2 linked regions of the Homo sapiens genome follow. The protein of the gene in region 1 purifies or fractionates together with the protein of each later gene. This does not show direct contact. Each region holds a gene or a part of one and is shown on either strand. Other genes may lie near its edges.

What was found.
Region 2: the proteins of CDH4 (region 1) and PCDHGA6 purify together in Homo sapiens (co-immunoprecipitation; one large-scale study listed by IntAct). This does not show direct contact.

Annotation. Positions count from the first base shown.
Region 1 is NC_000020.11:61,250,620-61,255,151, reverse strand, and holds the start of CDH4 (cadherin-4 isoform 1 preproprotein), read right to left. Parts: upstream 2,892-4,532; 5' UTR 2,639-2,891; coding exon 2,582-2,638; intron 1,555-2,581; exon of another isoform or gene 1,465-1,554; intron 1,073-1,464; exon of another isoform or gene 1,010-1,072; intron 327-1,009; coding exon 215-326; intron 1-214. UniProt on the Homo sapiens protein: Cadherins are calcium-dependent cell adhesion proteins. They preferentially interact with themselves in a homophilic manner in connecting cells; cadherins may thus contribute to the sorting of heterogeneous cell types.
Region 2 is NC_000005.10:141,380,124-141,383,927, reverse strand, and holds part of PCDHGA6 (protocadherin gamma-A6 isoform 1 precursor), read right to left. Parts: intron 1,187-3,804; exon of another isoform or gene 1,029-1,186; coding exon of another isoform or gene 1-1,028. Other genes in the region: PCDHGA7 (protocadherin gamma-A7 isoform 1 precursor), read right to left, coding at 1-1,028. UniProt on the Homo sapiens protein: Potential calcium-dependent cell-adhesion protein. May be involved in the establishment and maintenance of specific neuronal connections in the brain.

The sequences.
Region 1 (4,532 bases):
TGATTCACTTCACTCAAAAATGACCGGGGTTCTGAATCATTCACCTGTTATGCAAAACGCCTTTCAGGTCAACCAATTTGCACCTCGTGGACTTCACCACCATCATTTCACAGAGAGCACAAAGATGAGGCAAGCCTTGCCTCTCCCATCTACATGTTTCCCCAAGGAAAAGCATGGCAGCAATTCACTCCCACCCCTCCACACCCCGCCTTACCTTGAAGTAGCTTTTCCCCTTCTAGAATATTTTGGGAGATTAATGCCGTGTAATCATCTTCAGAGAACCCAGCCTTGCAGGTCTCTCTAGTTGTAAGATCCTCATTATGGGCCTGAGAACACAAAGGGGAGAGTGTAAAACAATAAGTTCACAGAAATTTAATCCAACCAACATTCATCCAGGGCCTGCTGTGTAAAAGGTCTCTGGCTAAGAGAGAAAGGCTGGCAGGCCACCGTCTCCACCCAGACGCGATACCCCGTCTGCTCCTCTGCTCTCTGGGGACTTTAGGGAGCACTCTCCAGGCTACAGACCAGGAGCATCCTTCCCCAGCCCCACACACAGCAGGCAGGGAGTGAAGGACGGACTGTTGGGGAAGCCAGGCCGGCCAGGGCCTTATTGGCAGAGGAGACGCCTGAGAAATGACCAAAAGGCAGAGACAGAAGACTTCAGCCGCTGCTCCCGAAGCCACTAAGGGCAGGGAGGCCAAAGTGTGGGCGGCTCTGCTCAGACCATTCGCGCTTTAGGCCCACCGCTCTGCGCTCTTGGTAAGGCGGAGGAGGCAGCTTCTTGTCTCCTCTCCAGGTCACCGGGAGGGAGGAGAAAGAGGAGAGAAAGGAAGAAGATTCTCTAGGACTAGGTCCGGAGCCGGTCGAAGAAGGCAGCTCTGCGGGAGGCTGCCGGTGGCTGGGGTGAGGAGGCAGTGGGGGCGCTTCCACCTTCTAGTCTTCAGCCCGCATTTTCACCCTCGGAGCCCCCATCTCCAGCCCAGGCAGGGAGACGGCTCCCCTAACTGACCGGAAAGGGGGTCTCCTCCTGTCCTCCGGAGCTCGCTCGCCTTTCCTGCTCAGTGGGGAAGTCTAGAGCCCATGGCACAGGGCCAGGGAAGGATGGGGTGGACGACAGGGCCCTCCGACCAAGCTTCTGGGAGGGGGCGTGACAGGCAGGAGGAGGTGGTGGAGGGAGAGGCAGTGTGTGCAAGCGGGAAGCCAGCCCCGCTGAAGGAGCAGGAGCACAGCGGTGCTTGGCTCCCCGGCGAGCGCAGGAAGCCTCGGGTGCAGCCCGCACCGGGCAGTGGCGCCTCCCGCCCGCCGCCTCCTCCAGCTCCGCGCGCTGCCGTCGCCCGCCCATGCTTCGACTCCGGAGGCCGCCCCCAGCCCGGAGCTCCAGGCTTCCCGACGCCGGCACCGCGGAGGGCGCCCCTCTACCCCCAGCACCGAGGGAGGAGAGCGGGACGCAGGGTCATTCCTTACGAAAAGCTCTAAACCGCGGCTTTCTTCATCGGCCACGAAGCTCCAAATCGCACCCGCAGCCCGGTGGGAGGCTCAACTCGCCCAGGAAAGTTTCCGCCCGCCCGAAGCGTGTGCCCAGCGCGTCCCCCAGCGCCCCGCGGCCTCGGAGCGGGCCTCCCGCCGCTGGCACTTGTTTATTTCCGAGGTTACAACAGCGCTGCCCGGGAGAAGGCAGCGAGGCCGATCGGCCACGAGAGGGGGTTCCTGCAACTCCCGCCGCCCCTCCGCCTCCGCCCAGGGGCGCCCCCGGAGCCGCCGCGCTCTCTGCCCCCGCGGGCCGCGCACCTCGCCAGGCGCAGAGCAAAGCTGGCAATCCGGCCCGCGGGGCTCTGCAGAGGCAGCGGGAGACCCGCTCGCCCTCCCGGGGCGCCCTCCCGCGCCGCGCCCGCCCGGCGTCCGGCTTCCCGGCCCAAGCCCGGCCCAGCTCCCAGCCCCCGGGGCCCCGCCGGACACGCAGGCTCCAGCCCCGCCGAGGGCTCGGGGGTGAGAGTGCCCCGCAGTCCTACCCCGCCGCCCACCCGCAGCGCGGGTCCTGCCGGCACCCACAGAACTGAGCGGCGCCGCTAGACGGACCCCCAGGCCTTGGGCAGGAGAGGTCGGGCAGGCGCCCCGCACTCGCGGATCCCTGGCCCGCAGCCGCCGGGCGCCCCACGCCTTCAGCCACGGCCGGGGCTGGGCTCGGCAACTCCCGCGGCGCGCGGCTCCCGGGCGATGGAGGGCGCGCCGGCTCCGCCAGTGGAAGCCTGCCCCATGCAGGCAAGCCGAGCTCCGGGTAGCGGCTACGGGCTTTGGGCGTTCGAGGGAGGCTCGGCGGGTCCGGTGCAGGCGGAGCTCCCCGGGTCCTCCACCGAGCCCCACTCCCACCCTGCTCCGCCGCTCCCCGCTGCCCAGGCGGCTTCCCGCTCCTGCCGACCGCAGGCAGCTTCGCCGAGCGCGGGCGCCGGGCTGGATGCAGCGGGGAGCGCGGCGGGGGAGCCCGGGAGAGCCCCGCCGGGTGTGTGAGCGCCCCGCGGGATCCGGGGACGACCTCCCGCTGCCCGGGGCTTCCGAACGGCGGGGGCGGGAGGCGGCAACTTACCCGGAGCGCGCCGGAGAGCGAGAGCAGCAGAAGGAGCACGCCGGCGCCCGCGGTCATCTTCCCCGCCGCCCGCCCGGTGCCCGGCACCGGGAGCCCGCTCCCTGCCGCCGCCGCCGCCGCCGCCGCCGAGACCACCGCCGCCGCTCCGATCGCCGCCGCCGCCGCCGCTCCCCCGCGCCTGCCCGGAGCCTCCAGCCCCGCTGCGCCCGCCGCGCTCGCCGCCCCGGCTCCGGGAGCCAGGCCAAGTCCGGCCGGCGGCGCGTTCCCTCGGGCCGGTGCGTCCGCCGGCCTCGCAGCCGCCCGCGCCTCTGTTCCGCGCGCTCGGAGCTGCAGGTGAAGCCGCGGCCGCCCCGCCGAGGCCCCGCCCCGCCGCCCGGCCCCTGCGCTCGCTCTGCCGACGCGGGCCTTAAAGGCGCAGAGCCCGCGCCCGCGCCCCCCGCGCCGCACCAGCCCAGCCTCTGCCCTCCTGGACGTCTGGAGCCGCCCGGTTGCGGCCGAAGAGGCCAAGGACGCTCGTTTTCCAGGGGAAAAAGGCGCGGGTGTGGAGACTGAAGACAGCGCTGGGGTTTCCGCCCCCACACCCGGGGCACCCTTTCTGGATGGGGCGGTCCCGCCGCGGTCTTAGTCCGACTTCCCGCCCGGGCCCGCGGTGGGAGTGTGCACTTCCATTCTGTCCTTTTATTTTTCAGGTGTCTCCTTGCTAACTCCCCTGACCCGGGCTTGAACCCAGGTCGGGCAGCTCAGGGGTGAGAGTTTCCACCTGGAGCAGATGAGCAGAGGGCCACGCTGAGATTTCAGCCTGTGGGGCTTTGCAGACCCTCCCGCTCCTAGGAAAACTCAAAGCCCTGGCCTGGGCTAGGGATGTACCCTAGGATTGGGGACGGTAGTAATTCCTGTGTGTGCATCAAAACACCCTGTTAGGCCTCAGAAGCCAAGAAAGAAATTAGAAGCTCCAAGAAAGAAAGAAGTGCCCAGACAGGAGCTGTCAGGAGTGTCTGCGCCGACAGGCTGGGCCAGCTCCAGCTCCCTTTGCCCTGCATGGGTGATGGCTGAACTGGGGGGCACTTCTTTAAGGGTTATCAGGTAAAATATATGTACAGGTCGGACAGTGAGTAAATGTTTCTGCACTTTTCCTTTTGGCTTGGAGATTTAAAGAAACGCGGTTTTGTTTGTTCAGATACATCGAATTTTCTTTGTCTGGGGTTTCAGGGACTCTGTGTCCAGAATACATTAGTTCTGGTTTAAGAAATAGGTTGCAAAGGAGAGGGTGGAAGATTGAGTGACACTGTTGAGCTCCAAGATCAGAGTCCACTTGGGCAAGCCAGTAGAGAAAGCTACAGAGCAGCCGCTTCCCTCTCTCCCTCCCAGAACCCCCACCCTTGGGGGCAGGGTGGTCTCCCGGTTAGAGCTCTGCCTTACGCTTAAGGAAACCAGATTTTAGATAACCCCAGAGGACCAGAGTAAGCACTACATCCGAGAGCACAAGGCGAGATTCGGTTTTGCAACTTAACTATGGAACTAGTCAGGAGACACAAAATCTGCCCCAGCCTGGACTCCTATCAGTTATGGCCTTGTCCCACTCCCCACCTAGCCGAAGAAGGAGAGGTTACCAGTTGACATGGCTGGAGGTTTAGACTCACTCGAAGGTCCTGCGTAGCCAGTGAGGTTTCATGAACAGATCCATCCAAAATCCTCATGGACAGAGAATTCCATTCCTCGGCCATGTGCCCGTCCTTTGGGAAGACGCCCCCTCTGCTTTCCTCCTTATTCAAGGTGCTTCACCACTGCTCGAGCGACATCAGAAGCTGTCCAAGACTGCTTTAGACACCAAGACAGCTCTCTTGTCTTGTGTCCCTGGTCTATTTTCTTAAAATATCTGTCGCTGGGGATACACCTTTGTCTGCAGGAGGCCTGAGCATTATGCGAGTTATTTCTTTGGAGAGGCATCACA
Region 2 (3,804 bases), on another chromosome or scaffold:
TTATCATTTACATCTAAAACTGTGATCAGTACTTTTGCCTTTGTCAGACTACCAGGACCATCTTGAGCCTGAACCTCCATTTCATAGAAGGCAGTTTCTTCATAATCTAATCCTTCTAAAGTTGATATTTCTCCTGTAAGCGAGTTCAGATGAAACATCTTTGGAAGTTTAGGAGTTATTTTCCGAAAAGAATATGTCACTTCCCCATTGACTCCCTCGTCCAGGTCGATAGCATGTACCGTGAGCAGTCTTGTACCCACTGGCACATTCTCGGGGACAGTTACTTGGTACTGAGGCAGAGAGAAGACAGGCGTGTGGTCATTCACATCCACCACTGTCACCTGGATGTGGGCGGTGCTGGATCGGGGCGGGTCGCCGCCATCAGAGGCTGTGAGGACCAGGTGGTGAACCCGCTCTTCCTCCCGGTCCAGCACCCGCTCCAGCACCAGTTCCGGGTACTTAGTTTCATCGTCTCCACTTTGCACAGCCAGGGAGAAGTGGCGATTGGGGCTGAGCTGGTAACTCTGGAGGGAGTTCGTGCCCACATCTGGATCCCCAGCCTCGCTTAACGGAAACCGAACCCCAGGAGCTGTATTCTCCATTATTTTTACATTTATTTCTTCCGTCAAGAATCTTGGAACGTTGTCATTAATATCTATTATTTCCACGTCTATAGGGTAAAGATTCATTTTATCTTCCATCAGGATGTTAAAGTTTACCAGACACCGCGCACTCTGAGCGCAGATCTCTTCCCGGTCTATCCTGCCCGCAGTGACCAAGCTGCCGCTGCGCTGGTTCAGGGCGAAAAGCTGCGTCCTACCTCTGGAGATGATGCGGACTCCGCGCTCCGCCAGCTCCCGGGGCTCCAGCCCCAGGTCCTTGGCGATGTCTCCCACAAAGGACCCTTTGTCCGTCTCCTCCGACACGGAGTAGAGAATACGTCCTGCCCAGGCTTCCCAGGGGGTCCCCAGGAGGATGGAGAGCAGGAAGAATCCTCTGTAGTCCCCGCCCCTCGGCTGAGCCGCCATAGTCGTCCTGCTTCTCTTGCTTAGGCGCCGATCTCGGGAAGTGCTTCAGAATGCGGGTGTATCCGGGTGGACCCCTCTGTCTTAGGAAGGGGAGCTCAGAATCCAGCAGGATAGAGGCTTGAGTTTAGTGCAGCCTGGAAGAGGGCTTATCGCAATCTGTCGTTTCTCTGTGCTGTAAAACTCGGTGGTTTCTGTGGGATCTCTCGCACCATTTTTCCCTGGTTGGTGAACAGCGGCGCTGTGAGTCCTTACTAAGTTACTGCACCACATTGATGCACACAATACACTGATTTCATAGAAAATTGTTTCATCTTTCAAAATTTCCCTGTTAGATTTCTTTGCTCTAGATATCCCTGATAATTAAAAATCCATTTTAAGACACTGAATTAATGCAACAGTGTTCATGGACCGGTGTTTGATAATCTTAGATAATTTTTAAAAAACTGCTTTGCCTTGCAACTTTCAAGTGACTCTTTTGGGCACTGACTCACACGTTATTGCACATGGGAAAATCAGTTATTGAAGGCAAAAAGGTAAATTTTATTTAAATACATATGAAAGATTTTACTTAGAAAATATTTACATCAGTGTATATAAATTTTAATTAATTCAGTATTAATTGAACACATATGTTCTAGACACCATGATGCAAGATTCAGAAAGTCAAAATTGTTGTAAAATATATAGACCTATTTTAATAAATTTTTGATTGTATAGAACCTTAGAGACGGTCTAACACCTTCATTTTAACCGTTTAAAAAATGAGAGGGGGGGCCAGGTGCTGTTGCTCACGCCTGTAATCCCACACTTTGTGAGGCCGAGGCGGGCGGATCACCTGAGGTCGGGAGCTTGAGACCAGCCTGACCAACATGGAGAAACCCCGTCTCTACTAAAAATACAAAATTATCCGGGCGTGGTGGCGCGCGCCTGTAATCCCAGCTACTCAGGAGGCTGAGGCAGGAAAATCGCTTGAACCCGGGAGGTGGAGGTTGTGGTGAGCCGAGATCACACCATTGCACTCCAGCCTGGACAACAAGAGCAAAACTCTGCCAAAAAAAAAAAAAAAAAAAAAAGAAGAAGAAAGAAAGAAAGAAAGAAAGAGGGAATTGCCTTGCCTTGTTCCTGATTATTGATTATATAGTAGTAGAACAATGTCGGAATCCAAATATTCTCACTCCCAGTCTTGTGAGAAAAAAAGAAAGAAATCGTTGTTTGTCTTGGCTGCAGCAATCAGCTATAGAAGCAACCCATTTTCTACAGAAGGCAGAAATCTGCAGAGATCCTACTGGGCTGTGAATTCATAAGAAACTGGATAATGGATTGGCTGATTCTTTTCATTATGCAATTCAATTCAAGTCTTCATCCTAGTATGCAATTCAAATCTTCATCCTACTCTATTCTAGTGTAATTGAGAAAACAGGGATCTCTAGACAGCATTTGAGCAAAATGCAGGACTGTCCTGACAGGATCCTTAGAGGTACTCGTCTCTCCACTGATGTTGATAGAGTAAAACTAAATTATTGATGGATCCGAGGCTACCCTCTGCTAGCAGAAAGAAAAGAAAGCTCCTTTCACATAGTTGCAGAATAAAAGAGAATGACCTGCTCTGGAATAAAGACCTGGCAAGAAACAGTCTTGGTTTGTAAATTCTTCTAGGTCCTGGAGAGTAGTTGGTGGAACCAGGAGGAGAATCCAGAACTAACACTAAGAAAGCTTAACTTCGTTTTGTGGGAGGCTCCTAAGTAACCTATTTCTGCTTTCTGGTGGCATTGCTCCAGAATACAGGGAACACTTTGAAGGACATTCTGTTTTGATCTATCAAAATAATCCATAGTTATCTTTGCATTCACAAAGTAGATAAATTTTGTTTAAAGGAACTAATAGAGGTATTATAGATGAATTCTGTAAACTGGAGTTAAATTCTATTTGTTTAATAGTACTTTTGAACTTCTTGTTGAGGCAAGCAAAGTGTATGATTATTAAACAATGTAAGCACTTGTAGATATTTTCAAACAAACTTTCATGTTTGGAGGTTATAGCTCTCAATGTCTTGATCCATTTTTACCTGATGCCTCAAAATTCATAGTTTCATCTCACATTTGTTTCTTATTCTACTGTTTTAAAAAAGTCTCAATTAATTTATAGTGTCTTGGTACCTTCTTTGGAGAAAAGGAAATAAGAGCTAGTTAAATTAAATTATAGACTACTCCGAACACAAAGCATACATACCCTATGGAGTAAATGGCTTCATTGTCTCTAGCATTCACATTTTCTAAGTTATCGAACATCATAAAATTAAATATTAAAGATCTTTACTAGACCGCCAAGATATGTTTAATAAAATCTAACATAAGCTCATTGTATCAAATTGAAATCATTTCATAGTTTAAAGAGTGTATATTATTGTTGACTGAGATATTGGGAAGAATCCTGACCATTTGTTTGGTTGCATTAAAAAGAATTCTATGTAAAGTCTATTTGGCTTCCTGGGCATCGAATTGATTATCTTCTCTCTTTTCTTTTTTGGGACTTTTTTTTCTAAAAAACAAACAACAAAACAGTTCTTTGAAGTTCCATTTAGATTTTCATTCTCAAGCAAAGATATAGGTATCTTCCAATGTTTCTCCTCTGAGATTTTACTCCTTCCCCTTTGACAATTGCCACCTCAACAGAAGCCTGATCAGAAATGAATGCCTTTCAGGCCGGGCTCAGTGGCTCATGCCTGTAATCCCAGCCCTTTGAGAGGCTGAGGCGGGTGGATCACTTAAGGTCAGGA